Linked DNA regions of Homo sapiens. The protein of the gene in region 2 interacts with the protein of the main gene of each other region in a pairwise test. Each region holds a gene or a part of one and is shown on either strand. Other genes may lie near its edges.

Region 1 (3,825 bases), on a different chromosome or scaffold from region 2:
GCTCTGAGTCTTGGTTTACTGATTTGGTAAAGTGGGGATAGCAGTTTTACCTAACTTAGGGCTGTTGAAGATTTCAGTGAAATAATGCAGTGCAGTGTTTAGCACAGTGCCTGCTGGGAAGCTAATGCTTACAGAGTGCTCACTATTGTAATTATACGTGATGCTGTGGGAGAACCAAGAAGCACCTCTTGAGCTGTTTCTCAGGATCCTAGTGATAGTGTCGTGGTCATGATGAAAGTTAGGTATTGAATGTGAAGGTCAAGTCGTCTGAGAGATCAACTCTGAAGTCACCAAGCGCTCAAGGAGTCCTCAGGACCTTCCTCACTAGCCCTGTGGCTGATATTATGGCTCCAGGGCTATAGGCTTGTCTGTAAGTGTTTCCTCCCCACTTTCTGCGTGAGCTCTTCTGAAAGATACATTTCACCTGTCATCATTGTGAACACCTTTTCTTTGTCTGAGTACCTGCACTGATCATTCCATGACTTCTCCCCAAGGAGAGGCATGAGTTGTACTTGTCTCACCTGTGCTTGCTGAGGAGCGCAGAGACCTGAAGACCCAGAACAGCAAATAATTCCTTGGTTTTTCTGTAGAGCTTTCAAGTCTGTCGTGTTCTTCTTTGCAGGAGATTTATCTCCTGAGCATCAGAGAGGCAGATAGGGCAGTGCTTAAAACACGGACTCTGGAGTTGGGACACAAACAGATGTGGGTTTGTGTCCTGACACCATCACTCACAAGCCATGTGGCTTTGAGCAAATGACTATACCTCTGTTTCCTCATCGATACAAGAGGTGAGATAGTACGCGCCTTTGTGTGGTTCGTACAGGGTTTCAGGGAGACGCTACAAAATAGGGCTTAGCAGAGGGCTTGCACATTGTGAGCACCCAGGAAGTGGGAGCTAGAATAGTGTCCTCTTTTCACCCAGGGTAGTAAGATTTTTAGGATGCTTTTCTCAGGGTATTAATGTATTGTCTGTGGAAGTTATATGAGTTACTGCACAAGCAATGTGTTAAAACACACATGTACTTGGTGATGGGGGGCTGGGAAGCATGTCCAGGGTGGCAGGCAGAACTCTTCCTGCGCTGGGATTGCAGAGGCAAGCCTCAGCTCCCACAAAGACATAGGGTACTGGTGAGGGAGAGGACGGAGCCATTCTGGGCGCGTTTGTCTCAGGCCCATTTAGGAACTGGGGGCTGCTTCTCAAGTTCTTTCTGTTTAATCATTCCATTATTCCGTGTAAATGATTGGTCTTTAATATAAACTGATAATACAACATGATACTTTCCCTCTTCAGGATTTAAATATTTATTTTTTAAGGTTAAGTCAATTTTTGAGTAAGCAGAAGAAAATTTGAATCTTTGGCCTTGACATCATAGGTTTCTTTTAAAATCATCTGAGATGAAAGGAAGAATAGGGAATGTATTTAAGTCCATGTTTATTGGATACAGTAATTATCACCCACTGTTGTATAAGCCTGATAACTAGGGCAAGGGAAGTTTGTGCTTTTGGCATATTTCTGAATAATTAAATATTTATGGAAAACAAGTTAATAGATTCAAGACAATTTGCTGTGTCTTTCTCTGGCATAAAGTTCGTTATGTGGAATTACAGAGAGGATTAGTCCTCTGTGCATCTGTTTATTTTTTCCTTCTAGGCACCATATCTCTAACACTTTCAGTCCACTAGCATTTATAGATTGCTCTCCTACTGGGCTCCCACAACTCTCTCACTGTGTGCCCTGCCTTAGCATATAGTACAATTGTGCCCACCAGTGACTCCCTCATGACCTTTCTCTAGACTTTACAGAGTGAGAGTCCACATTTGTTCTTGCGTATTCAGGGCCTACCCCAGGGCTGGTACAAGGCAGCCAGAATGGTCTGAGCATGCCATTCCCTTTGCTTAAAAGCCTCCAGTGGCTTCTAATTTCTGTCAGAAAAAAGACCACATCATTAGCATGGCCGGTGAGGTGTAAGAATATGCTTTCTAGGGTAATTGCTGGATATGTCTGTCTCTCCTGGTGCAGTACAGTCCCATCAGGTCATGGGCCGTGACTGTTTTGCCCACCAGCAGGTCCTCAGTGCCTAGCCTAGCATCCGGCCTGTAGTAGATGCTCCTTAAGTGTTTATTGGATGAACAAATGGAGTAAATAGTGGGCTCCCAGTGACTGATCTGAATCTATAAAATGAGAAGGTTGTTAGATCGGAGGTTCTGTCCATTATACAATATCTCAACCCTTTACAACACTTAAAAAGGTCTCTTCACACTTTTTATTCCAGCCTTATGTTGATTCTGCAGGTAGCTAGGGCAGGTTTTGATGTGCATAGAAGACAATGGAAGCTTAGAGAGGTTAAACACATTGCCCAAGATGTAGCTGTGAGAGAAGCTGAGGGTCCTAACGCCTCAAGTGCCTGTTCTCATGCTCCTGGCTGCCTCAAGGTGTGGCTTCTGACACACTCATTGTAGAAGTCGCAGGTGAGATAAGGTGACAGGGCTTCATTGGAAAAAGGTACTTATAATAGTTTTTCTTGGTTTTAGATATTTCAGTTTCCAGATAATTGAATTTGAGGAGTTGAGTTAAATTTGGAATGATGGGTTTAAGGTCTTGTTTCATGCTTATGGGTCAGAAAATACTGAACTTTCCTGTAAATGGCTAAAGTATAGTAATGCTTGGTACCTGTGATGATTAGTTTGTAACTAGGGTTAAAATTTGTGTTCTTGTTGAGAAGACACAGTCTTGCTGAGTCACCTGGGCTGGAGTGCAGTGGCTATTCACAGGTGCGATTATAGCACACTACAGCCTTCAGCTCATGGCCTCAAGCGATCCTCCTGCCTCAGCCTCCCAAGTAGCTCCCAAGTGCCACTACACCTGGCTGACAACCTTTTTTGGTAAGATTAGAAGTTACTTGCTGATTGATATGTAGCATCCTTTGCTGTTTTCAGAAGATACTTGTTGTTTCAGTTAGTTTATTTCTTTAATGTATCTCTGGCTATATCTGCTATGGGACACTTTGGCAATGAGCATCACTATGGCCTTTGTGCTTATCACATATAGTGTCCGTCTATCCTGATGGTTACCAATCATTGAGTCTACTCTTTCCACTTTCCAGATGAGGATGGAGGCTTTGTTAGAGTTTCATACTGAAGTGCCCTGATTCCCCACCTGACAAATCCCATGAACTGGAACATGTCCATATGCATGTAACAGTTTCTCAACAGCTGCCTGCAGTTCATATACTGCTGCTAATAAACCATGCCCACGGTGAAGCATTTATCCCAGATGAAAGTGTCTGCTTCAGGGGCCTTTGTTGAATCTGCAGTGTGACTGTATAGGAAAAGGATGCAAACTTGACTTAGCCCACAGCTCCAATATCTAGTCCAGTGTTGGTGGCTAGTTAAGAAAAGACAGTGCCTGTTGTGGTCTGTTAACATGATAATCATTTCAGGGGGTTCTTAAGGACTAAGAGATTCTTGGAACCTAGTTTTATCAATATAGCCAGTAGTACTTGTTGAACAGAGAAGCAGCCTGGTATATAGAAAGATCAATGAATATGAAGTCAGAATGCCAAATGTGTCCATTTGCTTTGAGACTCCCACTTTCCATGTAAACAGGAATATCTTTGGTGTGCATGCATCCTTTTTCAGTAGGAAAGCCCCAGTTTTAATATCTGAGATTGTGTTATGAGGCTTAAGTCAGAACAAAGAGAGCTGGATGATGATAAAGGATTGTACCAATAACTGAAGGTAGTCTTATTCCTTATTCTTCCCTGTCCTCCGTAACTACTTGCCTACTAGCCCATCTGGCCATCCATCCATCCATGCAGTTCTTGT
Region 2 (3,825 bases):
CCAGAATGTGAAGGCATGGACTATTTTAAAATGACCTCTTCTGCTTGCACCTTAGTTCTCTCTTAGTGAGGTTTCCATACTTTCCAGCTTGAAAATCATTTGCTTTTAAGGGAGCAAAATGTTGCTGAGCAGTTTTGTTTTCTTTCTCATTAGAATACGCTATCTATCCTTGGATTTGAGAATTTTAAAATGAGCCTTTCTTACTATACTTTCCATATAGTAAGTATACTATGCACAACATGCACTAAGTCGGTGGTTGAGAAGTAGAACCACTCATGGTGTTATAATGTTAAAAGTTTTGGCAGTAGTAAATAACTCTAATCAGTATCTCACATGGGAAGAGCCTTGTATTTTAAGAATGAATTTATTCCTTGTAAGTTAAAAGTTGTGAAATTAAGAGTGTTTCACAAGGGGCTGAAGGTAACATAAATTAGTGAAGCTGAATGGGAGGGAGTAACAGATATGTGACCCAAAGAGTGAATGCCTAGCTTAGAAATATTCTAATTCAGAACAGTTTCAACACTGCATTGGCCCAACAAAACACTGGCCCAAACACTACTGCAAGTTTGTAGTCTTTGCATGTAAACAGCCTGCAAGAGGCAGAACTATGTAAATTTCACTGTGTTCTTCCCAACATCTAACATACTATAGGCACATGGATAGTTGATAAATAGGAAAACTTTAGTAAGCATTCATTAATCGCCTTGATGTAGAGAACTGTTCTGTACAAAATAAAGAAAAAAATAACTCCTGCCCTTGAGGAATATCTAATCTCATTTGGGGAGACAGCATTTATAAATTAAAGACTAGACTTCAGTTCAAGAACAGAATTCTGAGGAAGGGCGGGAGGAGGACTAGGAAGTCTGCAATAAGGAGATACGGCTTCCCCTATCCTCAAAGATAGTACTTGGGTTTAAGTAAGGAACAGGGGAAAGGGTGCTGGGTGGAGATAAAGGCGAGGTGGTGTGTTTCAACTTAAAGGAGGACTAGGAGTAGGAAATGAGAATGGGTGAGCCAAGGAGACTCACTTGATGGGAGAGGAAATTTCCTTGTATTAGTGAGAAATTAAGTCCATTGGGTAAAAACAGGGCTTTAAAAAATGGTTACATTAAATGTACCTCTCTTCCCCCAAGACACTGTACTGTTAGGCCACAGAAAATAGGAACCATACAGTAACTCTTTAGGTAAAGATGTGGAGTATATGGATCATGAAAGAACTATGAAACTTTAAATGGCAAAATTTTCTGAATTTCTTGGTCCTCTGACCTAGAGTCCTAGTGAATTTGAACACTGTTCTTCCATGTCTCTATACCAGAGTAATGATTCTTTTCAGTGCTCAAAATTACATATACTGCTGCCTAGAATTTAATTCAGTGCACAGCACTTAACACTCTTTTATTAATTTATGCCTCCTACTTGTTCTAAAATGAAGTGGTTTTACTACATAAAGACTAATAGAAATTGAATTTGTAGGGGAGGAAAAAAGCTGTCCTCTACCCTCTTAGGTTTGTGACCAAGGCCTGTGAATCAAACTGATAAAAGAGTAATGGCATAAATAGAACAGATTTAAACACACGTATGCACAGGAGTTTGCAAAAGAAATGTGACTGGAGGAGGTGGTTAGAATTTGGGGCTTATCTACCAACTTAACAAAATGATAAAGCGGGAAGAGGTTCTAGATCAGATTTTCTTTACTAGTTGGTCAGAGCTCCTTTTCATTTTTCTGTGAGGATTTATATTATGGTGCTGGAGGAATTGCTGCAGATTGAAGGTCAACATTCATGGCCATAAATAGGAGTGGCCAGATGAAGCCACCTGGTAGCCAGAGTGAAGCCCAGAAGGGCTTAGGGAAATACCTGCTTGTGTATGTGTGTGGTTTTTTTCCTCTACCTGGAGGACCTGGTAAATGAGATGAAGTATTGATACCTGGACTTAAGACATCTATCGCCTGTTCAACAGTTAGTCTATCATCTAATTGTTCAAAATCCTAAATTACTGTTGTCATTCTTAGATTATAATTCTCTTTCCTCAATTATAATCTGGAGATATAATACAACACTTAATAATTAGATGTTAGTAGCTTTAGGAGACAATCTGGAGAGATAAGAAATGGAAATAACACAGAACATGTTCCACGTTCCAAGGGAAGTTCTAGATGCTTTACATATAGATTCACAATTTTTATTTTTTTGAGACAGAGTCTTCACTCTGTCGCCCAGGCTGGAGTGCAGTGGTGCGATCTTGGCTCTCTGCAACTTCTGCCTCCCAGGTTCAAACGATTCTGCTGCCTCAGCCTCCCTAGTAGCTGGGATTACAGGCATATGCCACCACACCTGGCTGATTTTTTTAGTTTTAGTAGAGATGGGGTTTCACCATGTTGGCCAGGCTGGTCATGAACTCCTGACCTCAGGTGATCCACCCACTTTGGCCTCCCAAAGCACTGGGATTACAGGCGTGAGCCACCATGCCCAACCAAAATCACAATTTTTAGATGACTGAGGTAGAGCCCAGTTCACAGATAAAATCATACCATACCGCTTTATTCAGGTTTATTAGAATCTCAAACATTGTCTCATTTCTTAACAATGTTATTTTCTCTGCCTCTCTATTGAGAAATTTTGGCCCCAAGTGTGACCACATGGAGTCATCCTGAGCCCATCCTGTCAGTGACCAGCTGTACAGTGTGTGTGCTCTAAGTGCCTAAGGATGAAACCGACTTCTCAGTTTCTAAGGTCCCTACAGTAGTGTTCTTTCGGTGACCTTCATACTGACCAAAGTCATATATACAGTATTTTGTAGCTTTTCCTTTTTGGTGAAAGACAAAGAACACTACATTTAAATTATGTCCATTTCTGTTTGCCTGTTTAACCAATGTCATTTGATCCTGTTGTGAATTTATAGTCCAAGTGAATGATTCTCAATACTCCCAGTACAAAGACCTCCACTTACTGTCCAGTTTTCACGGAGCCCTACAAGAAAGTATATTCTTAGTATCCATTATTAGAGAACATATAATGACAAATATGTTACTAGGAACTGAGATATATGTATTTTTTATAAACTTATTTTTTATTTTTTTTGAGACTGAGTCTCACTCTATCGCCCAGGCTGGAGTGCAGTGGCGTGACCATGGCTCACTGCAACTTCCGCCTCCCAGGTTCAAGTGATTCTTGTGCCTCTGTCTCCTGAGTAGCTGGAATTACAGGCACCTGCTACCATGCCCAGCTGATTTTTGTATCTTTAGTAGAGATGGCATTTCACCATGTTGGCCAGGCTGGTCTTGAACTCCTGACCTCAGGTGATCTGCCCACCTCGAGTTATGTTTTAATGAATTGGTATTTTTATTAATCACATCTACACTGAAATTTGAAAGACATTTTATATATATATGCATAAAACTTTTTCAAAGACCACAACATGGTTTTTTTATATATTTACATTAATTCAGGGTGAGACCAATTTTAAGCAATAACTTGAGATATAAGGCATCTTAGAAACCTGTGTAAAGGCTTAAGAATATGACATAAAATGGGACAATGGTAAAATAAACCATCCCTGTTAATCCAGTGTTTAAGATGGACTTCTGGGGAGTTAGCAGCCTATTCGTTTACACAGCAGATTTTAGAAGTTACTTTTTTTTTTTTTTTTTGCTGGTTTTGTGTTTGGGTCCAACTCATGTCCAAATTATGGCCTTTTTGTGATACCTTCCACTGGCATATTCCCAAGGAATTTACTCCTTTTGATGACACTGCACCCAGAATGGAGGAACACAGCTACAAAATGAACTATAAAGAAGGGCTAGGCAGGCATGGTGGCTCACACCTA

The links.
Region 1: the proteins of AKAP19 (region 2) and RALGPS1 interact in a two-hybrid assay, tested with the Homo sapiens proteins (one large-scale study listed by BioGRID and IntAct).

The regions. Positions count from the first base shown.
Region 1 is NC_000009.12:126,920,957-126,924,781, forward strand, and holds part of RALGPS1 (ras-specific guanine nucleotide-releasing factor RalGPS1), read left to right. Parts: intron 1-3,825.
Region 2 is NC_000002.12:190,183,778-190,187,602, forward strand, and holds part of AKAP19 (small membrane A-kinase anchor protein), read left to right. Parts: intron 1-3,825.